4 linked regions of the Homo sapiens genome follow. The protein of the gene in region 2 purifies or fractionates together with the protein of the main gene of each other region. This does not show direct contact. Each region holds a gene or a part of one and is shown on either strand. Other genes may lie near its edges.

Region 1 (8,278 bases), on a different chromosome or scaffold from region 2:
TCTATAGCTTAACACAATTGGAATCAGGCAATGATTAGTTAAGGAGTTATTGAGTGCAAGATACTAACTAAGTTCTATGTGGACTATGGAGATAAATAGGACACGGTGCTGGCTCCATTTCCCTGAGCTTATGTTTTAGTGCCTTCAGTAAGGATTCACTTAGCCATAATGAACCACTTTCCTTTAAGGAAATCCTTCATAACTCTACACAAGGGAGAATATAAACATGCATATGGTATACTACCATACCCAGACTTACTTTTTCAAGATGAAATTTTCATGATGAAATAACAGGTATTTTTCTGAAAAGTGAGCCTGTCTAAAGTTATATATCTTCTTTTGGCCTTTCTGACATGCTGTTTCAGAATTTGAAAGTGTTCTTATGTTCTTGAATTGTATACTCCACTTAATCTAAATCACCAAATCAGACCATGCCATTTCCTTGATTAAAATTAAGGTCTTTACATTACATGCTAAAGTTCAAAGTCCTCTCTGTGACACATAAGGGCATTCATGACCTACTTCTCTAGCCTTACATCCCTCTACTTTTTAATCCTGTAATTCCAAGACCAATTCCCTGCAACTCGTTGTTCAATGCCTTTCTTCCTTTTCTTATGTTGTTTGTCTCCCCAGGATTAATTCCCCACCCTACACAGCCCTATCCGTTCATCAAGACTCAGCTCTGGTACCATCTTCTCTGTGAGGACTTACCAAATGCCACATACTCCCCTCCCTCCCAGAAAAGCAGTAAGTGTTCCCCTGCTCCTTCTCTGTATCCTCATAGCATCTTATGTTTACCACTCTATCATAACTGACACTACTGAAATCATCTCTTAAGGTTAAAAATAATTATTAGAGTTAATATTTACTGAACCCTTACTATATCTCTGGCACTGTTCGAAGCATCTTCCATTTATTAAGTTTCTTTGTTCCTTTATAACAGTTCTATAAGGCAGATTCTATTGTTATTCTTATTTAATACATGAAGACATGGAGCCACTAAGGGTTAACCTGTCCATGGTAACAAAACTGGTTAAGTGGCAGGGAGAGAATTCTAACCCAGGCAATCTACCTCCAGGGCCTGCACTGTTATCACATCAAAAGTCCTCAGGTAAAGTCTGTTTTCCCTAATGAATATATACGTTTTACAAGAAAAAGACTGCCTCATTTATCTCTGTAGTCCCAGTCCCTAGCACATGGAATAAGTTCAGTAAGTATTTATTGAACTGGTTTGACTCACTTAACAAATATTTACTTCAGATTTTACAAATAAGTTATTCAAGTATTTAAATACGAATTTATTCTAAAATGGAGATGGAGGATTTAAATTTACCTTTACATAATATACAAAAATACAAAGTTACAAAGTGTTAAAGACATTTTTCACCAAATCTCATAAAACTAATTCATTGTAATTGTGGACCTGACTACACATAAACTTGTAATTAAGTATTTTGAAACATACCTTGTTTCTGGGTTGTACCTTGCAGAAAAGCAAATATAGTAAATAGAAGTTGCCAACACTGAAGAGAAGATTAACAAATCTGAGCATCCCAATGGAGCAGACAACATGTTCAGACCATCCAAAGATCCAAATGGCAGGTTTGATCACTCCAATTGACACCAGGTACAAGCCAGGTAATGTAGTAATCATGGGATCCCACTTTAAAATGAAAGAAAATGAAGTAAAAGCAAGAGGTAATAGGAACAAGACAGGCACAAATATGTCAAGCCCAAGTCTCATCTCCAGCAACAATCAGAAATTTTGAGAAGTTATTCTATGACAAGATTAAGTAAGTCCTTGGCAGAACAGGATTCGTTTTTCTTATTTTTTGCCCCCGGACCAGCTTAGTGATGGTTCAGGTAGCAGCAACCAATAAACAACAACAACTTAAAATCTATTTCTATTTTCCAAGAAATGTTCTTTAAAAGCCTTTATTTTGATAAATAAACTGCAAATGTTCCAGTTTTTAAAAGCATGGAAACATTGTTTGGGACTCTTAAGTTTAGGAAAACATTTGGACCACAGGCTCCATGATGACAGCTAACATAAACTGAGACAGAAATTGTTGCCAAACCCTCTGTATTAACGTTACAATATGCCCTATAGTAAAGATTATTGTCATTTTGCAGATGAGTAACCTGAATTTCTGAAACTCAGAACATCTCCAAGATCACAAAACTAGTAAATCACAGCACCAAGATTTAAGATCAGATCTTTCTCTAAAACAGACTTTATATTTCTAGCCAGTACCCTATATTGTGTCACCAGAGAAGCAGGGGATGCTTATTTTGATATTTATATGTACATACTTGCACAGTCAAATATATACTCAAAAATGATGTGACTTGACTGGTTGCCAGTTTATCCAGTTAACAGTTCACTAAAAATACCCAGGGAAGGAATTTGTGATTATAAATTGTCACTTTTTGGTAGCTGAAGATCCCTCCAGTCCACCCTATCCCACCCCTAAAATGCACAGTGAGGTGCTTGACAGGTGAGCTAAAGGAAAGTTTTCTGGTATTTCCAAGGAGCACCCGAATGCCTTTAATCCTAAAACAAGGAAAGACAAAGTGGGATCGATATCGTCAGCTGCCAAGAGGAGGGCTCAGTTCCCCGTTGAGTATTCTCCCAGATCACTCCTTCCTGGAGGACAGATCTGCTGTTTATTCATTCATTTAATAAATATTTCACAGATCTCAGAGACAGGAACAAAAGACTATACCCAGTTTCTTTCATGTTCTGAGGCTTGAGGGGGTGGAACAGGACGAGTGAAGTCTAAGGATGGGAGGACGTGGGGACGCTGGGACCTCTCAGGCCTCTCCTGGGGTGGGGACAGGTTGGGGACCCCACCTGGGAAAGGGAGAAATGGCCCTCACAGTAGCGCTGCGCCTGAGGCAGGTGGAAGATCTCGTCCATGTAGGGCTCTCGCAACGCCCGGCTGAAGGCGGAGAAGAGGAGGCAGGATACTAAAAAGGTACAGCTCAAGGCGGCCGAGAAATAGTAACCTTCCAGCTGCGCCATTCCAGCTCCCACAGCCACTGCCCAAGAACCTACTCCTGGAAAATTCTGAGCCTGGAAACCCGAGCTGGAAACTTGGGCTCGAAATGGGCGCGCTAGGCGGGACTAGCCAGACGGGGCCACATACCGGAAGGCAAAGGATGCTGGGAGAGCGCGGATCCGGAAAGATCGGGTCGCTGTTTCCCGGAGTGACGGGTTTAGATAACGGACCGGATGATTACCCTCTCAATCGCATTGCCCGGGGCGCACAAAGTGTCAAAACTTCCGGAAGGGGCGGGTCTCGGATTTCGCCAGCGCGGGAGGTGCGTGGCTTGCTGCTTAGAAAAAAAAAAAAAAAAAAAAAAAAAAAAAAGCCGCTTCTTAGCTTGGATCTTTTTTCCTGCTCACTTCCATCACTTACCAGAAGGTGGCGACGTTTCCCCACGTTTCCAATTCCAAGCCCTAAAATGGACACATTTTTTCCCCCGTTATTTCTGTTATTTCTCTCCAGTGATCCGAATTAATTAAACCCTCAATTCCAAGACATTTCATTCCATCAACTTTGGAGTGTAGGAAGGGTGCGTTGGTTGTGATAGCAAAGACTGAGAGTTTTAGATGAAAACTTGAAGAACCAGAGACCCGTCAATGCCGAATGAACTTCAGTGAGAGGAGTGTTTGTTCGTTTGTTTGTTTAGGTTAAAAGAGAACTCTTTCAAAATGTGGATGCTCTCAGAGGATTTAGTTAAATTGACATTCCTAGTGCACTTTCATAGTCATATTACCCTGTAGGATTTGGAAAATACATATATATTTTAGAATTCGGGATGTTTTAGGTGTGCCTGTAAATTTGGTTGTTAATATCTGTAAGGCAGCCTTCTGTTTTTCCTACTAAATCATAAGCGTGAACATCTTAGTGGGTGGCATTATACATCCTTTATGTTTGTAGTCCCCAAAATGGCTTTCACACAGTAGGCACTTAAATTTGTGGACTTTTATAGGCTGTGTAGACATCATCAAATTCCTGTATTCTGGGATTAGGTGCTGGGGGCAGGAGATGAGGTAAATAATTTGAAGAATGCCGAAGATAAATTATGTGTTGTAATTTTGTCTTGAGCATGGTTGGCCATGTTTTGTAGAAAAACTATTTCTCAGGTAACCTCAATCAGGTTGCCTTTGGCAGGAATATATCAGAATTTAGGCGGGATTTAAGGTTGCAAACCTCAGAGTTCTCAATTGAGCTCTTTTTCTGGGTTAAAACTAATTCAGTATTTCTAAACTTAAGAAAGTTTCTTAAATTAAGCTGACTGCCTTTCCATTCTGTCTCTGCCTGTTTCCTCAATGATAAGAGGAAGTAGTGGTGAATGAGGGCTGGGATGGGAACATTTACATTACTGGAATAAAGTCATGTGAGGATCCTACTCTGATGTGATGCTTAGCTTTGTTTTAACCATTATCTCCCATTTTATTGTTGAGTCCATGCTGTACTTATCTGTTTAAGTCACTTGTAACACATCTCCAGATGATTCAGTCTTCAAGAGGTTGATGTGATCTACAAGTAATTAGCTCCTGACCTGTTGACCTGCTAAATCGTGTTATATATACTCTGCAGCTTACTGACCCACCCTAGAAATAGTGGGTCGTTTTTAAAGGGAGTAGAACAAGACTAGACATTTATGCTCTCCATTTTTCTTCATAACAATTGCCACCAATAGTTTATGTTAAACATTTGACTCCTATACATGCTGCACACATCCCTTTACATAAAATGGAAAGTTTCAAGGAAATATGGGGTTCTAGAATGGGTAGGGATCTTTATTAATAATCTACTTGACTTCATGTTATAAAAGAAGTTGGTTTTAAAAAAATGAATGATTTACCTAAAATTACATAAAAAATTAGTGTCAGAACCAAGTGTAGGAATTAGAAAATCAGACCAAGAGTAATAAAATAACTTCATAGCCTTATAGGTTAAAATAATCTACAATGTATACTGAACTGAATGTTTCACTAGTCCCAATAACTTTACATTTACATTCCACTCTCCTCTGTTTCCATACACCAAGTTGAAATACAAGTTTCATCTTTTAAAAAAATGTTCATGTTACAGACTAATTACATCAAAATCTGCTGGGGGAACATTGTGAAAAACTAGATTGTAGAGAGCCATCTCAAATCACTGAATAATAATCTTCATATTTGGAAACGATTGATGTAAAACATATTACCTGAGAATGCTAAGAAGCTCCATGGGCCCAGTAGAGTTCTTTGTAGAGTACTTCACTCGTTTGTTAGTTATTTTTACTATCTGCAAATCGATGAAGCTGTTGTCACTTTTCTACTCTTAGATTACAACATCTTTGATAATCTTGAAATGCTTTCCAAAGCTCTGCTCCTAAATCAAGACCTATTAAAATAGCTACCTCTGGGGTTTTAATGAAATAGATTACATATTATTAGACCTATCATTTAAAACTAGATCAGCATTAATTTCAACTTACATTTTCCATTCAGAATTCCAACTGCCATTTTCCATAGATGTTTGTGAAAAAGAGTCATTAGGATGAGCAATCCCATTGTCATTGCACATCAACTATTTATTTGTGCTACTTGAATTATGATAAGTAAGTTATGGCAGAAAAATGGGCAATTTCTGTTGGGGTTCTAAGGATAGGTTGTTTTAGCAAGAAATAAATCTTTTTTGTTTATAAGCCATTAAGATTTTGACTTTATTTCTCCTGTATAACCTAGCTTACTTTGATCAATTAAGACATTCCTAATTTGATGAACTCGCATAACATTGCATATACTTAACTGTTTGAAACAGCCATATCTGAACAGTGAATTTCCCCAAAGGCTGTAACTGTAATAACTTTGAAGTATTAGTCCAAGAAACACCCTGCCTCTTATTGCACCCCTTTTCACTTGTTGCTGAATGAAAACATTGGCCACTTGCTAATCAGAGTGACGGTTTACTCCTTTCTAGGTGACAATTCGTTCTAGCTACAGCAGAGTACTGCACCCTGGGCCAAAAATCACAGATGATAAGCTCTAAAATGCAACTATACCCTTGAGGTCAATCTTAACATATCAATTTAAAATCTATATTTTAAAATTAATGAATCAATTAAAAAAAACACACACATTTTAGTACAAAAGCATTAGCAAGTATTTTAGCTCTACTGAAAATGTCTTGAAGACATTGTATAGGGGACTGGTTAAACCTAAGTAACACACACACGGAGAGACCCTTCTAAAAAACAATAATATTTATTTGGGATTGAGCATTACAGTTAGAATACAATGAACATAGGGAGGTAAAAGAAGACAAGGGATTTTAAAAGAAAAATGAAGAGGGTTACATAAATTGCTTTGAGACAATTATCCTTGGTTACAAGGACTGGTAGAAAGGGTGGCACCAGTTTGAGGTTGGACAGGCAGTTGCTGGGCAAATGTCCTCACAGAAGTAATTTTTTGTGAGATTGTGGTGGCCTTTGTGCAAAGTTGTGGTTTGTGCAGTCTTTTGTCGTAGTTCCTGTTGTCAGGCATACACGCATATAAACCCTCCCTTTCTGGTCTTCCTTAGCTCCATTTTTCAGGGTTTTTATGCAAGTGGCCCCATTTTGATTCTGATAACTTTCATAGAACAAATCTTTCTGGTTTGTGGCAGACTTTCCAGTTTTACCCTTGAAAGTCTCAGGCCAGGTAAATTCTGTAGTATCAGACAAAGAGAATGGTTGGTGATATGGTTTGGCTATGTCCCCACCCAAAATCTCACCTTGAATTATAATCCCCATAATCTCCATGATCCCCATGTGTCAACAGAGAGACCAGATGGAGGTAATTGAATCCTTGGGGCAGTTTCCCCGGTGCTGTTGTCATGATACTGAGTGCGTTCTCATCTGATGGTATTGTAAGTGTTTGATAGTTCCTCCTGCATTCATTCTCCTTCCTGCCATCTTGTAAAGAAGGTGCCTTGCTTCCCCTTCGCCTTCCGCCATGATTGTAAGTTTCCTAGGCCTCCCCAGCCATGCTGAACTGTGAGTCAGTTAAACCTCTTTCCTTTATAAATTACCCAGTCTTCAGCAGTTCTTTATAGCAGTGTGAAAAAGGACTAATACACTTGGTCATTTAGAAAGATATACCATACAACCCAAAGCAAAACTTCCTAAATATTTTTTTATAACAGTGGTTCCTAAAGTACCACAGCATTAGTATCACCTGGGAACCTGTTAGAAGTGCAAATAATCAAGTCTTGCCTTAGACCTACCGGAAAACAAATCTGATAGCAGAGGGAGCCAAGTAATACGTGTTTTAACATTCATTTTGTAATCAATTATGATTCCCTTAGATTACCAAGTGGACCTGATGGACCTGAAAGTTTGAGAATACTGCTGTCCTCTACATTTCCCTTGCTTTTCTGATCACTCATGCTGCTTTGTCCCCTGGCTTCTCTGATTCTTCATCTCCAGGCTTCACCCTACCAAGAAACAAAGTTCATTGCCAATGAACATATAGACGATGTTCCTCCTCAGCAGCTGAAGAAGAGGAACTTAAATACTTACAATTTAATGGCTTTTAGTTACATATATTTATATTCAGACAGATGTCTTTTCTTTCAAAAGACTATGTGAAGGGGAACTTTGCTTTTTGCTAAAATAAGCAGCTGAAACACCATAGTCCTACAGCTATTGCTGCCAGTTAGATAAGAAACATTCTAGGAAAAGAAAGAGAATCATAAATTGATTATTAAATGAACTGGGCTATTATACTGATGAAATTACAGTACTATTAAATCAACCAAAGTAAAAAGTTAGAAGAGAAGACATTGAATTAACTTTAATTCTTAAATAATTTCACAGTTTAAGAGACGCAGTAATATGATCTTACTAATTTTAAAATTTCAGACGTTAGAGTGAGATTTATGATACAATTGTTATTACTGAAAAGAGGGAGGTTTTGTGAAATATTGAGGAGGGTTTCTGGTTAATTCCCTTTTGGCTTTAGAAGCAGAGTAAAACAAGTGGGCATCCTTATGAGCATTAGGTACCCTGCACTGGCTATAAGTTCGGCATACATTCAGAATATTACTCTTCAAACATGTGCATGTTCTCAATTTATTGAGAATGGAGATCATCTGACTTTTCATTAATTAAATTTAAATGCAGAAACCCTCATAGAGATTTTATTTTCACCAGACAAAGCAGAAACATTGAATCAGTAGTTTCTGTTCTCCTGTGGTTCCTGTTCTTTCTAGATTTCCTTTCGTTTTTGCTTCAT
Region 2 (7,489 bases):
AGCCTGCAAACCTGCCCTCCAACCCTCAGTGCAAATCTGTCAAGCCCAAGTCCTAAGGCCTAGGATCCAGCTGCAGCCACCCTTCTGCTGGCTCAAGCCCATCCAGCTTCCAGACTGCACTCCCAGGTGCATTCCCCATGTATTTCTTCTGCTGCTACTTTCTTCTTCTTTCTTCTCCTTCTCCTTCTTCTTCTTCTTCAAGACAAAGTCTCACTTTGTCACCCAGGCTGGAGTCCAGTGGCATGATCTCTGCTCACTGCAACCTCCGCTTCCCAGGCTCAAGTGATTCTCCCAAGTAGCTGGGACTACAGGTGTGTACCACCAACCTGGCTAATTTTTGCATTTCTTGGTAGAGACGGGGTTTCACCATGTTGACCAGGCTGGTCACGAACCCCTGACCTCAAGTGATCCACCTGCCTCAGCCTCCCAAAGTGCTGGGATTACAGGTATGAACCACCAGCCTTGGCCCTCCCCATGCATTTCTATGGCTGCCTCCCTTCTCTGTGCCCACTGCCCTCATTTCTTTTTCTGGTGTTCAAGGGCTGTGCTATTTGAGACAGTTTCCTCCAAAAATGACTCTCCCTAACAGGAACTGTCTGCTAGACTCCTGGTCTTCTTCACACATCCACTCTCCTGCCTTTGTCCTTGCTGCTTCCTCTGCCAGGATCATACTCTTCTGCCTGGTGTAAAGGACACTCCCCTCCCTCCTTGTGTGCCCACATCCTCCGTTACTGGGGAGGGAGGTTGTGATTTCAGGGCTGCCTCCTATGGTATGTAGCCTCCTTGGGACGGAGGCCCAGGTGCCAGAATGGGCACCTAAAGAACACTTGTGGTTCTTCAGTGTTATATTTTAATGGTCTCAGCTTTATTATGCCTCTGTTTCTTTTCTTTTTTGAGACAGGGCTGTTGGCCAGGCTGGAGTGCAGTGGTGCGATCTCGGCTGACTGCAACCTCCACCTCCCGGGTTCAAGCAATTCTCTGGCCTCAGCCTCCTGAGTAGCTGGCATTATAGTTGTGCACCACCACGCCTGGCTAATTTTTGCATTTGTAGTGGAGATGGGGTTTCTCCATGTTGGCCAGGCTGGTTTCAAACTCCTGGCCTCAAGTGATCCTGTCTCGGCCTCCCAAAGTGTTGAGATTACAAGCGTGAGCCACCACACGCAGCATTTTTTTTTTCCCCAGACAGGGTCTTGCTGTGTCACCCAGGCTGGAGTGCAGTGGCACGGTCATGGCTCACAGCAGCCTTGACCTCCTGGGCTCAAGCAATCCTCTCACCTCAGCCTCTCATGTAGCTGGCACCACAGGCATGAGCTACCACACCTGGGTAATTAAAAAATTTTTTTTTTGTAGAGACGAGGTCTCACTTTGTTGCCTAGACTGGTCTCCAACTCTTGGGCTCAAGCAGTCCTCCTGCCTCGGCCTCCCAAAGTGCTGGGATTACAGGCATGAACCACCGCACCTGGCCTATGCCTCTGTTTCTAAGTGTCTCTAAGTTTTATGGTTCTGTGACCACTGATCTTCCACCCTGCTTTCCCCCTTGGTGATGAGAAAAGAACATTAATGGAGGGATTGGAAGGACTGAGAGATAAAACTAGAGGCTGAGGGGAGGAGTTCTTTTCAGATCTGACACCAGGGAAAACTTGAGATTTGGAAACATACTACTTGTACTTGGGAGGATGAGGGTGGGCTGTGGAGAGGGCTGCAGAGAGGAATCTGATGGGTGCTGGGTCCCTTAAGGGCATTCCTCCTGCCATAACTCATGTGCCTCACCCCAGAGTCCCCTGCTGGACATTCCACAGCTGTGGGTGGGGCCACAGATCATCTCTCTCACCCTCGGGCCTCTGGTTAAAGTGCTACCATGAGGGTGGGGGTGTCACACATTAACTGGTAGCACCCAAGCACCTGGCAGAGTCAGCTTGCCCTTTTTGACAAGCACGCCCCAGGGGCTCAGAGTCAGTTTCTGGTTAGTGTCAGGTCAGTGTTAGTTTCAATGGGGTTTGAAAAGGCCTGGCTGGGGGTGGGGAGTAGGAGTGAGTCCCTGTCTCTAATCCCCAGGCTGGGGCCTAGGAGGAGGAGCCAGGGTGGTCACTGGATCTCAGAACTGCAGTAGGGGCCAGACTCTGGCCCCACCCCTGCTGGTGTGGCAGCCCCAGGCTGACAGGCCTCTGCTGCAGCCATCCCACCGTGAGTAGGGCTCTGGCCAAGGTACACAGACCCTGGGGCCAGGGTGGGCATCAGACACCAACAAGCAAGGCAAGAGGCTCAGCTGTCTGAGCAATGCAGCCTGGCCTTCCTCCCTCAGAAAACCCCTTGGCCAGACCAGGGGTTCTCTGGGACTAATGGCTCACATCTATTTCTGAGTCCTTATATTTCCCCAGTGCTTCATCCCAACACTAGCCCCAAAGTCAGGCTGCATCCAAGCTTAGCCCTGATCCCAGACTGAGCTCTATCTCCATCATGAGCCCCAGCCTCAGGCTGAGTTCTTATCCCAGTCTGATTTCTAGCCCCTGGCTGAACTCTGACCCCAGGTTGTGCCTCCACCCAGCCCTCAACCCCAGACCTCTCTCGGCTTCTAGGCCCCTCTGGAAACTTTTTGAGGCAAGAGCCCAGTAGGGGAGGGGATGGCTAGGCCATAAGTGAAGCGAGGTGCCACTTTTACAGCCATTTCGGCTGCTCATAAACACCCCCTGACACCCAGCTGAGTCGCTGGAGGCTCCCATGGCAGCTGGCTGGGTAGCCCCCTTCCCTTGCAGCAGAAGCATGGCTGCCTGGCTTTCTTGCCTCTCAGGAAGGTGAAGGGAGGGGCGATGGGGGCACCTGGGGCCAGCAGGCTCTGTCCCAACCAGGGAGCACTCCTAAGGCTCCCAAGGAGCTAGAGGTATGGGCTTTCTGTCCCTGCTGGCCTCATGGTTACAAGCCCCCTGCTGTCATAACACCAGGTCCACAGATGTGTCTCCATGCGGGCATGTCTTGTCTGCCCCATAGCACGGCCCAGGTATTTAGACACTCACCCCCAGGGAAACCACAGACTTGGGCTTCCCAGCTGTGCTCAGGCCCCTAGGCTCCCCTGGCCCCCACTCACCTGCAGCCCATGGGCCTTCCAAGTCGGGCCTAAAGCTGCAGAGCAGACTCAAGTTGGCCACGGGGAGGCCATGGATAGTCCCTGAGCAGCTTCTGTGGCTCAGGCCTAAGCAAGGATAGTGCTGCTGGGGACAAGAAAAGACCTGAGTCAGAGCTTCCACTTGAAAAGAAAATTAATTATTTTTTACCAAGCCCTACACTGGCCCAGGACTTTGTCCCAGGCTCCTAGTCAGGAGTAGGAGGCAACAGAGGCAGATCCAAGTGTGCCGGTGTTCAGATGCCCAGGGCTGGGCCCTCCCCTCAGCACCCATGGGTCTGCCTGCCAGGTAACTGGGCCCACTCAGGCTGCCAGACACGTGTGTGTGCCTCAATAGTCCTCTCCTTGCCCTGCCATGCCTCTCTCTTAGTCTCTGTGTCCCTGTCTAACCCTCTGGTCCTTTCCACATCTCAGGAATATCAGGCTGCCACGAGGTATGAACACAGCCCCTACTAGTGACTTCACTCAAGTTTAAGGCACCCAGAGAAATCAGAGGGGGGCTGGAGGTGGTTCTTGCCTGTGTCACAGGCAGGAAAACTGAGGCCCAAGAAAGCCTGATCTGCCAGCACTGGGTACCCAGTGGCTCCTAGACGGAAGAGATGGAGGGGGCCGTCATTCCACTCCAGCCCGTGTCCTGACCCCTACAGCCCCACAGCCACCTCATATCTGACTCCTTGCCCACTGGAATGTGGGCTCCTGGTGAGGAGTCAGCCAGGAAGCCCTCCCTATCTGCCTCCCAGGCCCTTCCAGGCCCAGGGTCTGCTTAAGCTGTCACAGGTCTCAAAGGCAGGGGGCTGTGGACAGGATGACTTCTCTCTGTGGGTCTGTAGAACGAGCTGTGTTCAGAACCAGGGCTGGTTGCTCAGGATGAAGATGTGGGCAGACAGGGAGGCAGAGACCCTGCAAGATCCCAGAAACCTCACCCCCAGGCCCTGTGACCCGGCTGGAGGCTGCCCTTCTGCCTGAGCCCAGTCTGAGCTGGTTTGTGTCTGGAAGTCCTAGGCTCAGCCTGATGAGGTATAATGATTCACGTGGCAGCTGCCACTCAGCACATTCCAGCTGTAGCCCCCAGTGCCCTGCATGTGAGGCAGCTGGCCCCAACCACCCCCAGCCATTGGGCACATTCCTAGGGCCCCCCTCCCTGGGTCTTCCAGGCTCCTGGGGAGGGTACCACTCATTAGAGTTTCCAAAGTACTTTTTGTTTCACAAGTTAGTCAGGGAGGCAGGCTCGGTGATACCTGGCCTCCAGGTGGAGGAAACGGGACCAAAGAGCAGAATGGACTGGCCAGGGGACATAGTGAAACTATGACAAACAGCACTTATGGGACTCCTGCCCCAGCTACTCTGAAGTGCACTGCTCCAAGGGGTATCCTGGGACACGTAGGCTATTCTGTGACCAGGCCAGCGGAGGTCAGTGGGCAGTTGTGCCCAAAGGAGGGAGAGTTCCCCTGTGCTCTGTCAAGCCTCCCTGTTGCCCTGGCTCTTGACTGCCAGAGCCTCTACCTCCCCTGAGTCCACATGCACTGCCCTACCCTGCCCACAGGCCCCATCCTCACTGGCCAGGGAAGCAGGAGGCTGGGGCCTTTTCTGCTTTGACCTGTGGATCCCTGAGCCAGACGCCTTCCTGCTCATGGCCTCAGTTTCCTGATCTGTTGTTAACAGTTGGGCAGTTTCAGGCTCAAAGGGGATCTGTAAAGTGCCCAGGCACTTGGGTCTTGGATGCAAGCAGACCTGGGAGTCTGAAAACCTGAAGGCCTTTCTCTCCTCGAGCCTTGGGCCTGCCAGTTTGCGTTCCTCCTGTGGGCCCCAGCCCAGGGCTCTGGGGGGCAAGTCTGGCCCTCAGCTCCGGGGACAGGAAGTTGTATTTTGGTCCTGGGTTCTGGGGAAGAGGTAGGGGGAGAATGGCAGCTCAGACCCAGCCATGTTTACTCGGGCCCGGCCCCCTCCGAGCTCAACAGGCTCCCATTCATTGGGAGACCCATAAACCCTTTGGGGCTCCCTGAGGTTCAGAACGCCTGGATGCCAAGGCTGGATGCCGCCCCCAGACCTGCTGGGAGCTGTGGGCAGCAGGTGGGGCATGAGTGAGGCATAAGTGGGATGGTGGGTGGGAGCCTGAGACTCGCCTGAGTTTCCAGGTATTTGCAGCGTCGTAACAGTTCTTGCCCCATGCACATTGTGGAGCAGTTGGGAAATCCAGGGAGGTGGTGGAGGTTGAAGGGTTCCTTCCATGGCCACGAGGCCATCAAAACTGATTTCTCTTAGATCAGGCCCCAGAAGGGTGTCTCCTCAGACTAGGCTCCTGAGGGCATGTCCTCAAATTGCATGACCCTCAAGGCAAGGCTGAGACTGCTGTGTCCAAAGCGGAGCTGATGTCCTTGCTGAGGCTGCATACCTGGCCTTGGGTTGTTGACAGTCCACTCCCTGGCAGTGTGGGCATGGGCTTGCATCCCACTGGAGTAGGGCAAGTCTCTGGTCTGTTCCTCATCTGTTCAGCAGGAGGTCTTCACCGGAAGGGGAAGCACTGGGATTGGATGCTGAGGGATGGGGCCCTCAGGTCTGCATCCCTCAGTGTTGCGTGTTGTTACCTTTGTGCCCATCTCTGTGCTTTCTTTGGGTGAGTTAGAGCACCGTCCCGTGGTCCCTGGAAATGGAAGGGAGGCAGCAACAGTGTTCAATGGGAAGAACTGTGGCTTGGGGGTCCAAATCTTGTCCAGCTTTCCCATGACCTGGTAACAATTCTGTCCCCACTCAGGTCTTCAGTTCTCCCTGCCACAGACGGGTTAGAGTGGACTCTCTCCAAACCCACCCCCAGCCCTGCTGTTCCCAAGGGCAGCTCTGAGGGAGATCCCTGGTGGCATGGTGGCGGGGAGTGGGGTAGGAGAAAGGCCTCCCCACCAGATCCCCTTTCATCAGTGCCCCCACATGCCCGGGCAACCTGGCCAGCCACTGGGGACACTGGTTGGGGGTCCAAAGCGGGTCCTGTTTCCCAGACGCCTTCTGGGTAGAGTGTGATTTCCCGCTCCAGTGGTTGTAAAATCCCCAGAAGCCTAGTGCGTCCCTATTGTGTGTGTGGGGGGGGGTCTGTGCCTCGGAATACCCCCTCCCAGGCGTGTTTGACACGTGTTTCCGCCTCTCCCTGCATGGGCTCCCGCTGCTGCTATTTATAACCTTTAAGAGCTCCTGCCGACTGCAAAGTTTTCTTAAACTCAAAATATCACCGAGGTCCCGGGCACGCGTTCCAGAGGCCGGCTGGGCCCTGCGGTTTGAAGGGAGGAGGGGGCCAGGAAGGAGGAGGTGGTGGGGAGGGGGTTAGCTCAGACACTGGGTCCTTGCCGGGGGCTGTGGCCGGGAGCCCTCGAGTGGAGAACCCCTAGTCCTGACACTCCTGCCCTGTTAGGCCTGGAGGAACCCTCTATGTGGGTGGTCCTTTGTCGTGCCTTGCCAAATCTCTGGGCCTCAGTTTCCTCTCACTCTAAATGCCTCAGGGGACACTGGCTGGGGCAAGGCAATGAGCTGGCGGACACTGGGAATGTCTCTAGGGCTGGAATCAGGGTTGTGTCTGCCTGGCCATCCTGCAGGCTGCACCAAGCCTGGCCCAGAGGCACCGTGGACATTGGCTGAACTGGCTGGAGAGGGGAAGCACTCAGGGAAGTTTATAAAACCGTGTATGGGAAAGCGACATCCAGAGAAGGGCAATGGCATGCCAGAGGTCACCCCGCTCATCCAGAGCAAGTCTCCAGGCCTTCCGACACCCGTGCCCTCTGAGGTGAGCCTCTTTGGAAGAGGCCGAAGGGCTCTCACTGGGCACAGGTGGGTCGCCAGTGTGGAGGAGGTTCTGGGCTTAACGGGAGGTGGCTAGGCATAACTCAGATGCCTCCCTGAAGCTGGAGGGGACACTGGCAGCTGGTCTGGCCCAGTGAGGTCAGGCCTCTGCCCAAAGTCACACACCCAGCTCCTGCCTGCCCTGACCTCTGCTCTATCTCTGGGGCCTCTCTGCCTCCCGGACTAGTCATGATCTTTTTGGGGAGGTCAGTGGTCTAGGCTTCCCCCAGTCCCACTGCACTCCTTTCCTGAGCTGGTGTGGGGGCTGTGGAGGCAAGGGACTGGAGCACTGAACTCAGGGCCATCCAGTACATCCTGTCCTCACAGCAGCACCCTCTCTCAGCACAGCTGGCTCTGGAAGCCACTCTTGGCCCAACGAGCAGAGCTGGGTTCAAGATGGAAGGGTGACCACCCCCGCCCTTAAACTCAGCGGCCCCACATCAATTTTTCCAATCAAGCGTAACCACACAGGGCTCCTTGGGGGTGGAGGGGGGCAAGGAAGTGATGACCTCGCAAACAGAGGAGGAGGAAGAAGAGGAGGAGGAGGAA
Region 3 (7,549 bases), on a different chromosome or scaffold from region 2:
CCCCTTGCCGCTTACCCGACACCCCTGAGAAGACAGCACCCTGATGTCTGCAGGGATCTGGTCTCCTCCTTTGACCTCCACAATGTCCCCCACCACCAGCTGCTCTGAAGGGATGGTCTTCTTCTCGGAATCTCGGATGACGAGAGCTTGCTGCAGAAAAAAACCATGACAGATGCCTCAGACCCTGGAAGGACACCGGCCCTCCCCCAAGTCTGTGCCGCACCGAACCCCAGGACAGAGGCCTTGGAACTTCCTGATCACTCTCACTGTTGAGTCCATGCTGTTATGCAGCCTGCACCTGGCCCTGTGGACACAGCATTGCTGCTGGAGCATGAGGCTGTCAGAACAGCAAGAATGAAACAGAAGACTGCTTCACCCGAGGCCTGAAGACTCTAAGAACTACTTTTTCTTGAGCTTATGGAGAGTTCTTGGAACAGAAGAGTCGCTGTTGGCCAGATCTGGCCAAGCCAGAGCCCTGGGCCTCCTAGAAAAGGAGACCACTAAGGGTGAGCAATCCTGGCTGGGCGTCTGGGCAGAACACTGAAGGTGGGGCTGGGGAGGCTGATAATCTTGCGAGTGTCAGGGAAATTTTAACGAGGTGATCTCCTGCTTCAAGCTTGGCAGGAGGCGTCTTTTCCACCCAGAATCTCTCCAGCCCACAGTTCTCTGGGCCAGAGACAGTGTGGACACCTGACAGGGGTTTTTGGGGAAGAAGGGAGCACTGGGCTTCCCCACCAAATGCATTCTGGGGCTCAGGAGCAAAAATGGTCACAGATAAACAATTGCAGGCTGGTCTCCTTGGCTGCCAGTGAAAGAACACTCCCTGACCTTCCACAGGTCCCTTCCAGAACCCAGAAGGACTATCCACAAACACTGAGGAGCAGGAACAGAAGATGCCTTGGGCTAACCAGCACTGCCCTGGGTGGTGCCTCATTTGACCATCAAAATCCTGTGAGGAACTGGGGTTCTGACAGATGGGTTAATTCGCCCACGATTGCTCCGACAGGGAAGGAAGTGGAAACCCGTAGCCCTCAGGGCCCTGTGCCCCTCCCAGCTGAGGCTTCCTCACCTGGGAGTCACCAGAGGCCAGAGGATAGGTGGCTGCCACTCACCTGAGGGATCATCTTATTGAAGCTGGACATGATGTTGGTGCTTTTTGCCTCTTGGTAATAAGCAAAGATCCCCGTTAAAATGACCACCAGACCAAGCACACAGCCCAAGTACACCTGGGTGAGAAGGAGGGCGTCAGTCAGAGAAACCAGCAGTGGGAAGCAGCCGGGCCCTGGGGCTAGAGCTCTCCACGGGAGGATGCAATGCTGGCAGTTACGCCCTGGTATAATTTACAGGCCATGGAATTCGCCCATGTTAAGTGCGCAACTTATTGATTTTTTTTTTTAAGTTTACAGAGCCATGACACCACCCTCCACCGCAGCCTCAGAGCATCTCCATCCTGCCTGGAGATCCCTCCGGCCCCTCTGCCGTCACTCCCTGCTCCTGTCCCATGCCCTGGCATCACCGATCTGGTTCCTGCTTCCAAGGATGTGCCTGTTCTGCACATTTCATGTCAATCCAATCCTATGACATGTAGCTTGTTGCCTCTGGCTTCTGTCTCTTGGCATCACGTTGGCCAATTCAGTTTTGTGGATTTGGTACTCATGTCTCGGCAGGCACAGCTGCTCTCCGTGTTAAAGGAAGAGGTTAGCTTGGGGGAGACAGAACCCCAAACTACTTCACATGGATGCAGATTTTCTCCCCCTTAAAAATTCAAGGTGTTTTGTGTATCCCTCTTCATGCCCACACTGCCTCTAGAAGATCAGAAAGCCAGATAGAATTTCTGTTTTACAGCTGGGAAAATGCCTGACTTTCCCACACCTAGGCAGTGGCATTCAGCCCCCAGCTGTGCCCCCAAGGCCTCACTGGATGGCTCTGCCAGCAAAACCAGGAGGGGACACCCCAGAGCCTTACGTTGTTCAGGGATGCAGACTTGTCGCTGGAGTACTGAATCCCATATGCAATCCAACAGAGAAAGGCGCCCACCCACAGGAGGATAGAGAACCCCCCCACCATCTGCTTGAGGAACTTGACGATCTCAGGCGTCTGCTTGGGAGGGGTGAGGGAGTTGGGCCCATCCCGGGCCAGGAGCTCGGCAGCTCTGGTGCTGGAGAGACCCTGGGAAAGCCAAACAAAGCACATGCACAACCAAAACAAATACGAATTAGACATTCCTCCTCCCTCAGGGGTTGGGCTGCATATTTTTGCAGCTTGGGGTGAGGCATTAACGTGGCCAAAGAAGGTCCCGAGAAAAGCAGACCGTGCCTCACTTCTCCAGCTGCCCAGCTTTTTTGAAAGACTATGTAATGCTTAATACCAGCCAGGCACTGTGCTCTGTATATTCACTCATTTAGTCTTTAAAATAACCCTTGAGGCAGGGGCCATTATTCCTCCCTCTCGTCATTCGCAGAGGTGGAATTTGAGGCACAGAGAAATTACGTAACCTGTCGAAGGGACCTGGCCTGTCAATGGTAGCGACCAGGTTCAACGTGGTGACTGGGTCCAGAGCCACTGCACTCTGCTCTGCTAAGGGGTTTTAGTTTCTTAGAGGTTTATCCGGTGAGAGGACTAATTTGATGAAGGAGGACTTGGAATGAAGAAGCTGCTCACCAGGGCTAAGGGCAATGCAGTAACTCCCCAGGAAATAGGGAAGCTTCTGGAATCCTGCACAGAGAGCATGTGGCTTTAGTTTCCATCCTTACGCCTGCTCCTTTTCCACCTTTCTACACATCCAGCCTAAGTTCTCATTCATCTTGACAGGCATAAATCCTACCCAAGCCCTGAGCCCATGTGAGCAGCCCCTGCCCTGGGGGGCCTGCCATCCGTGAGGCACCCTCACCTTTGAAACCCTACATGTTCACAGGAATTTCCCCCACAGACGATCTTTGGTGGACAAGTCTGTAGATACCTCTTCTCCCTAATTATGTTGTAAGCTACTTAAAGGGCAGGACTCTGTCTTGGTCTTTTTTTTTTGAGACAGAGTCTCGCTCTGTTGCCCAAGCTGGAGTGCACTGGTGCGATCTCGTCTCACTGCAACCTCCTCCTCCTGGGTTCAAGCGATTCTCCTGCCTCAGCCTCCCAAATAGCTGGGATTACAGGCAGCGGCCACCACACTTGGCTAATTTTTAAAATATTTTTAGTAGAGACAGGGTTTCACCACGTTGGCCAGGCTGGTTTCGAACTCCTGACCTCAAGTGATCTGCCCACCTTGGCCTCCCAAAGTGCTATGATTACAGACCTAAGCCACCATGACAGGCCAGTCTTGGTCATTTTTGTGTTCTCTCCCGGGTCTCATGCTTTTTCTGTGGTAGTGATTCAAATATCTGTTGAATGGCTAGATTCAGGCTCACCACCTCGATCCCATCTCCCTCCACTCCAATTCCTTTTCCAGAACCCCAGACTCATCTTTCTGAATAACTGTGGAACATTTCCTCAGGGGTGTTCCGGAGAGACTTCTCCTGGTATAACTCACAATAAGTTCATCATCGCCTCCACCCTCCTGCCTTCCCTGCTCTCACCTCCCTGCCCCCACCCCAGCCCATCACCCGACCGGCTCTCCTCCTCCTGCTGCTGTGACATGACTAGCGAGATGAGGGGCTCAATAAAAATCCCCGCAAGTCCTGCTGGTTGTGTCTCTCTGCAATTTCTTTCTTTCTTTCCTTCCTTCCTTCCTTCTTTCTTTCTTTCCTTCTTTTCTTTCGACAGAGTCTCGCTCTGTCGCCCAGGCTGGAGGGCAGTGGCGCGATCTCCGCTCACTGCAAGCTCCGCCTCCCAGGTTCACGCCATTCTCCTGCCTCAGCCTCCCGAGTAGCTGGGACTACAGGCGCCCGCCACCGTGCCCGACTAATTTTTGTATTTTTAGTAGAGACGGGGTTTCACCGTGTTAGCCAGGATGGTCTCGATCTCCTGACCTCGTGATCCGCCCGTCTTGGCCTCCTAAAGTGCTGGGATTACAGGCGTGAGCCACCACGCCCGGCCCTTTTTTTTTTTTTTTTTGAGATGGAGTTTTGCTCTTGTTGCCCAGGCTGGAGTGCAATGGCATGATCTTGGCTCACCGCAACCTCTGCCTCCTGGGTTTCAGAGATTCTCCTGCCTCAGCCTCCTGAGTAGCTGAGATTACAGGCATGTGCCACCACGCCCTGCCAATTGTTTGTATTTTTAGTAGAAACGGGGTTTCACTATGTTGGTCAGGCTGGTCTCAAACTCCCGACCTCAGGTGATCTGCCCACCTCAGTCTCCCAAAGTGCTGGGATTACAGGCCTGAGCCACCACGTCTGGCCCCTGTAATGTCTTTCGACATTATTTCAGATCCTCATTTCACAGTCCTGGGCTGTTGTTCCATTCTTCTAGACCCTTCCATTTCTCACTTTAAAAAAAGAATCTTCTATGAGAACTGCCTTTTGAAAACCAATGAAAGCACCTCCATGTGTGGAAACCATGTCCCTTCTGCCTCTAAGACAGCTCCTACTCATTAGTTTAATGTGAATACTTTGACAGCTTCACCCAGATGACCTTCCTGGCTTCATTCCTGCTGCACCTGTCCCCTCTCCACACATACTAGCTTCCGGCAAGCCCAGATTCTCTCCAAGCAGGCTCTGTGCTTACTGGCCCTGGGGTCCCCCACCAGCTTAAATCCGAAGCATTTTGAGTCCCAGCGCAAACATGGCAGCAGCCCGAGAGCTGGCTCTGGCCCCTTCCATCAGAATCCACCTTTGTCCCAGCATAGCGTTTCTACTTCTTGTAGCCATCCCAGGGGGATAGAGTGAATCTCAGGACACTTCCATACACATTTGCCTCCCCTACCCGGCCACTTTCTCCTTGAGGCCAGGGGTCATCTGTCCCTCTTGGTCCCTCTCACTGCCAGGCCAGTGTGAGCCCCACAGTAGGTTTTTCTGTTGACTTGAACTGTGTCCAGATGCAAATAACTGCAGTCTCAAAGGCGCTGCAGGGGCCCCTCCTCCTAAAGGTGCCGCTACTCTTCCACACAGCCCCCCGCCACACACAGCCTTCCCTCTGTAGAGTTGGGAGGCTTCTCTTCCAAATCCCTGGTTCCCACGACTCACCATAATGATGTCTGTGCCATATTTCTCTTCCAATTCCCTATTGCTGAGTTTGTGGTCATCCTGAAGTCCATGAAAGGAAGAACAGAGTGAATTAGATAATTCCAAAAGACTCAAGCCCCAAGCTTTGACCAGCCATGGAAGCTGGGAGTAGCAGCCCTGAGGATGGGAGGGGATCGAGGAGTGTGGGGGACAGGAGAGAAAGAACCCCTGTGCCAGGCAGCTGCCCAGCGAAGGATGGCACTGCCTCAGGAGTGACTGTCCCTGAGTCGGCACAATCCTGCACTTGCTGTTACTACCCAGAAGCTGCCTGCAGCTTTTCTGAACAAAGCCATGCACCTCGCTTCAATCTGAACTCCAGGGCATACAGGTTCTGGCACCCTCATCTTCCAGGTGCCAGTGAGCTGGAGGCTTCCCTCAGGCCTGAACCCTGGGATTGGCTGGGGCTGATGGCAAAACCACACTAGAACCGCTTCCTGGGCTGGCACAACTCCTCCTCCTTCGCTGTGTGGGCTCTGGCAGGGAAAAGCAGCTTCCCTCACTCAAGCTGTGACGCTCAGGGAGCTCACTGGGCAGAGAAACCCTGCAGGGAAAAGTTCTGCTGAATAAACCCACAGCATTGTGGCTGCCACTTGTGAATTCTGCTACAGAATCATTAGACTACAGCAGGGTTTCTCACCCGTGGCCCTGCTGCCATTCTGGGAGAATAATTCTTTGTTGTGGGCTCCACCCACTAACATCCTCCCCTCAGTTGTGGTAACCAAAAATGTTTCCATTTTTCCCCTGGGAGAGGGGTGGGGGAATCCTCTTCTCCTCTCCCTTTGAGAACCACTGGGCTAAAGGACAAGAAGTCTCTTCCTGTAGCAGAAAACCTAGGGTAAGTCTTCCTCACTCCCCCTAGAAAGTCCAGCACTCAGGATTTTTTAAACCCTGATTGTCTGAAACAAAGATTGATACTGTTGACTGGTGCTCACATCATCTCTTTTCTTAAGTATATGCAAAAAATAGTTCCATGTTGCAGTAAGAGACTAGGCCTTCCAATAAAGCAGAATTCATTATTATCATTATTATCTTGCTTCTAGCCCTCTTCTCAGCCAGATTCTGTTTTGCTCCTTCATCCCTTCTACTAATACTGATTGAGTGTGATATTGCTGGGGATTCAGAAGATTAAGGCTGTGTTCTGCACAGAGCACAGCACAACCCACTAAGTTTTGGGCAGATACAAGTAGTGGATGATCCGAGCCATTGTTTGCATGCATGGGACCTCAGACTTCCTGGGCTGGGGGATGAGAGCATGGGGGAGGGGTGGGACGAGGTGGTGGTGGTTATCTGGGGTGCCCTCTGCTGGCCAGCACTGGACTAGCACAGGGCAGCACCCCACCCACCCCTCGGGTCACTGCCTGGCCCTTTCATTCAAAGGCCGGGATACTTCAGTTGTCATTAGGCACTAATTTGCCAAGAAAGGTTGGGAGGCAAAAGCATTCAATATGCTGCTGAAAATTACAGGACCCTTGTAATGTCAAGGGAAAAACAGATATGTCTTCAATCTTAAATGCTAGAGATAATGGGAAATAATAAGAACGATCTATCGTCTGGTGCTGTGCTGTCTTTTCCCTGTTTTATCTCATTTAATCTTCCTAGTAACCCTTAAGAGGTAGAAAAAAAAATCTTATGTTTTTCAAAATAGGAAACTGAACTTCAGTTACACTGGGATTTGAATTGAGGTCAGTCCAGTTTCAGGGAAGCGTTCTTAAATGTCTCTCATGATAGATACGGACAAATGCCCAGTGGTATACTGTTAAATGTTTAACAAACTCTCCAGGAACGATCAATACAAAGCTCGGATTTGTAGAGTTTGCTGATTTCTCACTAGAACCAAGTTTGAAGCTGCTAACAGGATGTCAGTCAGCCTGCCAAGTTTCTGAATACTTAACAAATGGCTCTCTAGCACAAAAGAGACTCCCCTCAGGAGTCACAGAGCTTTAAGATCTGCCAAGGACGGTGGGGACAATCCAGCCCATCTCAAGCTCCGTGTAGAAGTTTCCCCTTCGGTGTTCCCAAGATAAAATCTGTCACATTTCAGACCCAAGGCAGTTTTATTATTAAAGTGGCCAGTTTGGGCTGGACACAGTGGCTCACGCCTGTAATCCCAGCACTTTGGGAAGCTGAGGCGGGTGGATCATCTGAGGTCAGGAGTTCGAGAGCAGCCTGGCCAACATGGGGAAACCCCGTCTCTACTAAAAACAACAAAAATTAGCTGGGTGTGATGGCGGGCGCCTGTAATCCCAGTGACTCGGGAGGCCGAGGCAAGAGAATCGCTTGAACCCAGGAGGTGGAGGTTGCAGTGAGCCTAGATAGCGCCATTGCACTCCAGCCTGGGCAACAAGAGCGAAACTCTGTCTCAAAAAAAAAAAAAAGGCTAGTTTTAATAACTCCAG
Region 4 (7,549 bases), on a different chromosome or scaffold from region 2:
CACTGCAGTGAACCCAGATGGCACCACTGCACTCCAGCCTGGGTGACAGAATGAGACCTTGTTTCAAAAAAAAATAAAAAAAAGAAAAGCTTCAGGGACCGGGAGAGGAGCTGGCCTGGCACATATCAGGTGCTTGGTTAACCTTCACCAGTGCCATCCTTTTCTCTGACACAACACTCACGGTCATCTTAGGAAGAAAATGAAGACGGGGGGCAATACCAGCAGCCGCTCCGCCTGTGAGCGCTCACTGCGAGCTGGGCTCTGCCCAAGGTACTTCCCGGGAAGCACTGCCCAGACTCCGTGCAGCCTCAAGCCACGGTGCCTTTTCCTGCTCTTGTAGCCCTTCCCAGCTGCAGAAGCAGGTCTGAGAGCCCAGTAACTCCCACGGGAAGGGCAAAGCTAACGGGAGGGGCTCCGCCTCGACTGGCCAACCTCGAAGGCTGGAAAGGACCTATCCCTGCAGCTGGGACACTTCCCCAGATGCACCAGGCTCCCCAGCACACCCGCCTCCCCCCGCCCCACCCCTGGCAGCCCTGACTTGTCCTTCCAAGCTTCACCCTCAGTCCACATCCTCAGCGGAGCCACCCCAGGTCCTCCAAGCACTTCCTCCAGACTCAAATTCTGCCCAGCCTTTGAGGCAGCCTTAGATGTGGCCAGTCAGCTTCCCCATGGGACAAGAGACCTGGCCAGGTGCATCTCAACCTGCTGGCCCTAGCCTAGCAGGCACAGCAGGGCAACCTGGGCAAGGGCACCTCTCTCAAGATGGGACCGGAAGGTGGACCAGGCCATGACCTCTCGGTGACCTGGGACTGGGAATGTCCCTCTCTAGACACAGCCTCCTTCTTGATGAAAGGGGGGTGGTCTCACAAATCCTTGCCTAGGAGTGGCTGGGAGGGCAGAAGGAATGACAAATGACAGCTCCTCTGATATGTGGTGTGGACAGGATTTCCTTTGGAGAAGGACAGCCAGGGCCTCGTGAAACTACTCCAGAGAGAACCTAGGTGGCAGGCTCACCTGGGCCCCAGTAGGCCACCCACCGAGCCCAACATAGGGAGCACCAGGGTAGATCCTAAGAAGGCACGTGGGAGCCTGCACTGTGATCAGCAGGCCACCCCACTCCCAGTACGCTTATTCTGAGCACCACAAGCCTCAAAATTCCTTTTTTTTTTTTGAGACAGTCTTGCTCTGTTGCCCAGGCTGGAGTGCAGTAGCACGATCTCGGCTGGCTGCAACCTCTGCCTCCCAGGTTCAAGTGATTCTCCTGTCTCAGCGTCCCAAGTAGCTGGGACTACAGGTGCCCGCCATCACACCCGGCTAATTATTTTGTATTTTTAGTAGAGATGGGGTTTCGCCACATTGGCCAGGCTAGTCTCAAACTCTTGACCTCAAGTGATCCACCTGCCTTGGCCTCCCAAAGTGCTGGGATTACAGGCATGAGCCACCACGCTTGGCCAAGCCTCAACATTTCTGCCATCTCAGAGAACTGCAATAACCCCCACTTCTCAAGGGGTAAGCTGAGGGACACAGGGAAGAAACATTCCAGGCTGATCAGAACCCCCATTCCAGGGCTCCTTATGTACCCCACATTGCCTCACCAACCCCCTCCCACCCCCAAGAGGTCTCAAGATCCTCAGGCCTGGCTCAGAGCCCCCAGGCTAAGGCAGGAAAGCTCTGTGGCTCAGGGCCAGCCTGGGTTCAAGGCCTGGCTTGGCCATTTTCTTCAGATTCTGGAACCTCTGCAAGCCAACTTCCACATCTGTGAGATAGCAGGGCCCCTCTCAAAGGGTGGGGGACTCCACCCAGCTCAGGAGAGATGCCCAGCATAGCGCCCACCCGTGGTAAATGTTACTGCTCAAGCAGCTGCTCCCATGATGATCGTTAACGTGACAACTGTTAGCTCTACCACTGCTCTGTGCTGGGTGAGCTGGGGGCAGGGGCTGGTGGTTTCAAAGGCTGGCCTCTGCAACTGCCCACCTGCCCCATACTCACTGCCCAAAGCAAGCCTTCCTTGCCTGGGCACCTATCAGAGCCATATGGGCACAGAGGCCCCTGCAACCTGAGGTCTGGCAGTGGCACCTCAGGGGACACTTAAACTCTCTGAGGCCTCAGCTTCCCTTGGACAAAACAGGCTCCCAACAACCCAGAAAGGGGGTACTGGGGCCTCTGGTCAGCGAGCGCTCACCCGCAAGGGCCCTGCTGCCCGGCCACACCTGCCCACCGTACCTTGACATAGTAGGTGATGAGGATCTTGCGGAGGTCGAAAACCTGCAGCATGGAGGCAGCATTATTGTCACTAATGCTATAGCCCTCCAGCACGTACTTGCTGGCTGTTACCTCCCAAGCCAGCCAGCGCTGCCCAAAGGCAGCATTGAAGGACAGGACCCGTGGCAGGTGGCCAGGTTCACAGCAGCAACAGCCCTCGTCCTCCTCCACACCCTCGGTGATAGCCTCCACCTCGCGCTGCTGGCAGTAAGTGCCTGTGGAGGAGGGGTGTGCAGTCAGGGGCTGCTAGAACAATCCCTACCTGCCCTGTCCTGGGAGAGTGACCAACATGGCATCAGAGGCCTGCTGCCATTCACCCCCTTGGACGCCAGGGGAGTCAACCTTATTGGATGCCAAGATTCACGAAAGAGCGCCTGCCTTTCTCCTCCCAACTCCCAGCATCCAAGGGCAGGGCGGGAGGGAGCAGGGACACGGTCTGGCCCCTCTGCACTCTCGGGCATCCAACACACACGTCTTCCTGAGAGGAAGGAGCTGGCTCACTCATGGCGCCCAACCCATGGGCCAAGCCTGAGACCACAGAGCAGGCTGGGTGTGAGAACTCAGACCTCCAGGCCCAGGCCCTCACTGCAGTGACCTGTAGAGTCACTGGGACCTAAAGTTGGGGCAGGCACAGGGCTTGGCCAAGAGACCCTGCCACCTCATTGCTCAGACTGGGAAACGCAGGCCCAGGGAGGAGGAGTGCCTTGCCCAAGGCCACCCGCCAGCCTGGACAGAGCTGGACTGGACCTCCTTCGCACGTGCTATTGAACACAGCTCCCACATCAGGCCCGAGCTGTGCCTGCCCACCCGAGCCTGGTCCTGCGGCTCACCCCGGAACTCAAGGCCACGCAGCTGGAAGGTGACGAGGCCATTGCCAACCTCGATGAGGTGCACCAGGGCGTTGAGGTAGTCAGAGGCCAGGACGAAGCAGTCACCAGGGCCATAGTTGCCCCAGCGGCCCAGCACCAGGTCCCCACACAGTGTGTGCTGCAGCGAACGTGTCAAGTGCTCATAGAAGATGGAGTTGAGGTTGTTGTCATCAGCGCCTAAGACCCAGAACAGACGGGCAAATGGACAAAGTGACAAGTTAGCGAGGCTCCCTCCCCAGGGAGGCCCTGCCCTAAAGCCCCTTGGATGGCTGGGTACACACCAGGGTTCCTGTCCAGCTGTGTGACCAGGCGGGTGTTGGAATGATCCACACGTTTAGTGCTGTTCAGAGAGAGTGCAACAAGGCGGTTGGCCAAGAAGGTGAAGAGAGGGTGCACCCTGCTCATGCTCTCCCTGTGCCACAAGGTCAACGCCATCCAGGACAGCCCCGTTATGCAGGCAGATGAGGAGACTGAGGCTCAGGTACATGAAGGGACTCACACAGGACACACAGCCAAGAAGCTGGGAGGCTAAGCTCATCCCCAGACCCCACTATCCCCAAGCTGTGAGCCTGAAGCCTTGGCCTGGTGCAGGCTCTCCCTGCATTGGATCTGCCGCCTCATGTGTCCCCACTGTGACCAAGCCCTCCCATACCTGCTGTGGGCCCCTCTGTGGGTGGCCTCCAGCCTGGGCTCCAAACCTCTCCCTTCCTGCCCTGCTGGGCATGCTCCCGCCTCCTGTGAGACTCACTTGTAGTCGCGCTCCCAGAACTTGAGGGGCCGAGCGTAGGACATGATGAAGACGGCACTGCCTAGCAGTGGGTTGAGAGGCGTGGAGAAGAGCCCCGAGAGCAGGGCCTGGACGAACAGCATGGCCGAGTCTGAGCCACAGTCAAGGAGGCGGCGGGCAACAGGACCTCCCAGCCCCCCACCACCCCCCACTGCCCCAGGCCACAGCCCTCCCTGCACACCCCCACCCAAACACAGGCTGGATACGTGGCACGGCAAACGGCTGGGCAAAAGCGTGGAAAGCCGAGCCCCAGGTGATCTGCCAGGGCGCGATGTAGGTCAGCACGAAACGCAGCTTGTACAGCAAGTCCCACAGCTGGCAGGGCCAACAGGGAGAAGAAAAAAGACATGCAGGGTCACTCATGGAAGCCCCCGGATGCCAGGCCCCATTCAGAGGCTTGGGTCATCGCACTGGCTTGGCCCACGGGGGCCAAACTCAAGGTCACTGCCAGCCCTTGTGCTCTGGACATGGCTCAAGGCGCCTGATGCCATTAGCAACCCCTGCCTGAGCTCAAAGGGGGCGGTGGCCATTTAGTTCACACAAGTACCCTGTGAGCTTCTTATTCCTATTGCTGGCCCCTTTTCACAGATGGGAAAGTTGAGGTTCAGTGAAGACAGAGAAGATAAATGACTTCCTCAGGTCACGCCACTAGGTCACTGGTGAGGCTGAAGCTAGACTATAGTACTGAAAATTGAGAACAGCCACAGGCCCTGCCCTCAGAGGGTACGCAGTGTGGATGACCGCCATCCTGGGCCAGGCCAGAAAACAAGAACAGAATGCCCACGTGAGGAAGAAAAAGGCTCAGGCCTGCCTGGGGTTCCAGGTACCACTGCTGGCCTCCAGTAGAGTGTAGGAGCATGGTTCCTTAGTTCAAAGAGCCCCCCAAGCCGTGGCAATGCCACAGCCGGCAGAGCACCTATACACACCCAGGCACTAGGGGCTTCTGAAACTCAGCTCGGACTGCTCTGGATCCAGGGTGGCAAAAGAGCGTGGAACTCAGAGGTCTGCGTCCAGAGGATAAGGCCAGGTCCTGATTACCCTAACCATTTCTGAGGAGGTGGTCGTGGGGTCAGACAGGCCTGGGTTCAAATCCTGGCTGACCACCAATTCTCTGGAAGCCTGAGGCAAGTCCCTCAACCTCCTTCAGCCTGCTTCCTCTCTGTAGAGGGTGGAAGTAACCCCTTCCTTGAGAGGCTGCTGCAAAGGCCCACGGGGCTGATACAGAGCGGTGGCCACAGGCCCTCAGGAAATTCTCTTCCCACCCAGGCAGAAGTTGGCTCTGCTCCCATTGGACAGCCTGGGGTCTGGGCCACAGCCACCAACTCACCTTGCTGCAAAGCAGGGACATGAGGAAGTAGTCAAGCAGAAAGCCCTGGGAGAGGCGCGGGTAGTCAAAGTGGAAGAGCAGGACGGTGAAGGCCAACGTCAGGTACTGCTGTGGGGGGCAGCAGAAGGCTGAGCGCAGCAGCTTCAGCCCAGCCACGGTCATCAGCAGCGCCCGGCAGCTGTGGGCAAGGGGCAGGCATCGGGTGCTTGGTAGGGGACCGGGGCAGTGGGTATAGGTGTCCCATCCCTCGCCTACTCTGGCCGGAGAGCAACCCCTGGCCTCTGCTCTGCTGGGCTGGTCCCTGCTCTTTTGGGCCCGTGACTCTTAGTCTCTGCTCTTCCAAAGGGAGTGGTGGGAACACATTTGCCTTTGAAGAAGCAACCACTTCCTGGGATGGCGTGTCAGGAGCTGGGGTCCTGCTTTAGCTTGCTAAACAACCTTAGACATGATTCATTCCCTCTCTAGGCCTCAGTTTCCCCACGGATCAAAAGGGAAAGCGGATGATGGGATCGTTGAGGGTGGGGTGGTCCTCACTAGAAGCAGTACTTGTCCGGGTGGCTGACGACTGTGTGGGCGTCCACCGTGAGGGCGTTGAGCACCACGGCGGGGTAGATGAGGTACTTCTCTACGCACTGCAGGCCAGCATACAGCTTCTCAAACCACATCACCTGGGCGGCACCTGTGTGGAGAGGCCAGGACTCTGCACCTGGCTTCCACATGCCTGCCTTCCCTGAGGAAGTCCTTCCCTAGGAGGGCAGGCTGTGCGGTCCTGACTCCTCGGAGACCCTGGGGGGAGGGGCTGATCTGTGGCAGCTCAAATGGGAGCAGCGAGCCCCAGCAGGGCAAGGGCTCCACATGGCACTTAGCACATCGAGGCTTGCTTTATGGCAGGTGCTCTGCTCTGCTGTCTGTTAAAACAAGGCCAATGATGAAATCGCAAACACCTACGTACAGCAGGCTGGCTAGGGCCTGAGTGCACAGTGAGCCCGTGAGCTGGGCCCTTCTAAAGGGCAGACCCCTCGGTTCAGGCTGGTTGTAGCCACAGAGGGATGCTAGTCTGGGAAGCAAAATCTTCTGTCGTTTAAGAAAAACTCAAGAAACATGGATCTTCATATCTCAAATCGAGATGCTAAAATAGAGGCTCCAGGATTTTTTAAAAACCATTATGCAGCCCAGTGAAGATGTGCTCCAGGCAGCTCTGGTCCACTGGTGATCAGTGTTTAATTCTGGACAAGAGATCCCTTCAGGGCCCTGGGGTTCTAATTCTTCCGTCTTCTCACAGACAGGAAGGAGGGCAGGACCAGGGCAACACAGGCAAGGGAAGGGCACAGCAGGGCACGAGGAGAAGAGTCGGTGGAGAGCGCAGCCGGGCAACACGGACACAGAGGGCAGGGAGGGAGCAGAAAGGGTAGTGTGGGCAGCGAGTGCCCCCTGCTGGCACTCCTGAGCCGAGAGGACCACAGCTCCCACCAGCCAGGCTGCAGCCCGAGCCACTGCCCAGGCCTGGCCATCAGGGGTGGGCACTCACCGCGCACTTCATACTGGCTGTACTCCAGCGGCTTCAGCACGGGCTGTGACAGGCAGAACCAGGGCAGCTGTTTGCGGAGTTGTGGCAGCAGGTAATGTGTGAAGAAGCCCACGGCCCCAGCCAGTGCGTACAACACGAAACCCAGCACCGACTGCAGGAGGGAGAGGCCAGAGACTCAGCTGATGGGAGCAGGCCAAGGGACCACAGAGGGCCACCTGGCACAGGCCGGGGAGGGGCTGCCCACGGCACTCAGATTGAGCAGGCTCCCGCCAAGACAGCGAGAGGCAGCAGCGGCCCATGCCACACAAACCTTCAGGGCAATAAAGACGGTGCTGGCGCTGATGGCGAAGGTGAGCACGGCGATCACCACACACATCACCAGGTCGGAGTGCAAGACCTCACGCTGCAGGGCCAGGAGAGACATTCAGCTGCCCGGCCAGGAGAGACACTCAGCTGCCCAGCAGCCCAAGCTGGACATGCCCCTCCCAGGAACCCCAGGACCTGTCACCACCTCCCCACAGACCCCCACCCCCCGCCCCCTCACCACCGACTGGCGCATCTTGTCCGGCAAGGGGTCCGGGGGCTCGGCCCGGGCTGTCTCCAAGCTGCGCTCCTCCAGCTCAGGGAACAGCTTGCTCCGGATCAGAGACCTGGGGGTGAGGAAGAGTCAGGAGGAGGCCGCCCCTCCTTCCCCCCGGCCCCAGTCACGGGCACATGCACAGACCACAAACCCCTACTGGGCAGACACAAACACACGACCCGGAGCACACCCACCA

What was found.
Region 1: the proteins of PTH1R (region 2) and ALG10 purify together in Homo sapiens (affinity purification with mass spectrometry; 2 studies listed by BioGRID and IntAct, with this or other methods). This does not show direct contact.
Region 3: the proteins of PTH1R (region 2) and ATP12A purify together in Homo sapiens (affinity purification with mass spectrometry; 2 studies listed by BioGRID and IntAct, with this or other methods). This does not show direct contact.
Region 4: the proteins of PTH1R (region 2) and PCNX3 purify together in Homo sapiens (affinity purification with mass spectrometry; 2 studies listed by BioGRID and IntAct, with this or other methods). This does not show direct contact.

What each region holds. Positions count from the first base shown.
Region 1 is NC_000012.12:34,017,347-34,025,624, reverse strand, and holds the start of ALG10 (dol-P-Glc:Glc(2)Man(9)GlcNAc(2)-PP-Dol alpha-1,2-glucosyltransferase), read right to left. Parts: upstream 3,130-8,278; 5' UTR 3,026-3,129; coding exon 2,855-3,025; intron 2,849-2,854; exon of another isoform or gene 2,727-2,848; intron 1,664-2,726; coding exon 1,466-1,663; intron 1-1,465. UniProt on the Homo sapiens protein: Dol-P-Glc:Glc(2)Man(9)GlcNAc(2)-PP-Dol alpha-1,2-glucosyltransferase that operates in the biosynthetic pathway of dolichol-linked oligosaccharides, the glycan precursors employed in protein asparagine (N)-glycosylation.
Region 2 is NC_000003.12:46,873,437-46,880,925, reverse strand, and holds the start of PTH1R (parathyroid hormone/parathyroid hormone-related peptide receptor precursor), read right to left. Parts: upstream 3,206-7,489; 5' UTR 3,083-3,205; intron 1-3,082.
Region 3 is NC_000013.11:24,682,939-24,690,487, reverse strand, and holds part of ATP12A (potassium-transporting ATPase alpha chain 2), read right to left. Parts: intron 5,175-7,549; coding exon 5,115-5,174; intron 2,170-5,114; coding exon 1,966-2,169; intron 1,227-1,965; coding exon 1,113-1,226; intron 151-1,112; coding exon 16-150; intron 1-15. UniProt on the Homo sapiens protein: The catalytic subunit of a H(+)/K(+) ATPase and/or Na(+)/K(+) ATPase pump which transports K(+) ions in exchange for Na(+) and/or H(+) ions across the apical membrane of epithelial cells.
Region 4 is NC_000011.10:65,625,279-65,632,827, reverse strand, and holds part of PCNX3 (pecanex-like protein 3), read right to left. Parts: coding exon 7,548-7,549; intron 7,424-7,547; coding exon 7,318-7,423; intron 7,202-7,317; coding exon of another isoform or gene 7,177-7,201; coding exon 7,084-7,176; intron 6,925-7,083; coding exon 6,774-6,924; intron 6,154-6,773; coding exon of another isoform or gene 6,128-6,153; exon of another isoform or gene 5,931-6,127; intron 5,925-5,930; coding exon 5,780-5,924; intron 5,424-5,779; coding exon 5,246-5,423; intron 4,234-5,245; coding exon 4,125-4,233; intron 4,010-4,124; coding exon 3,880-4,009; intron 3,472-3,879; coding exon 3,413-3,471; intron 3,309-3,412; coding exon 3,093-3,308; intron 2,478-3,092; coding exon 2,224-2,477; intron 1-2,223.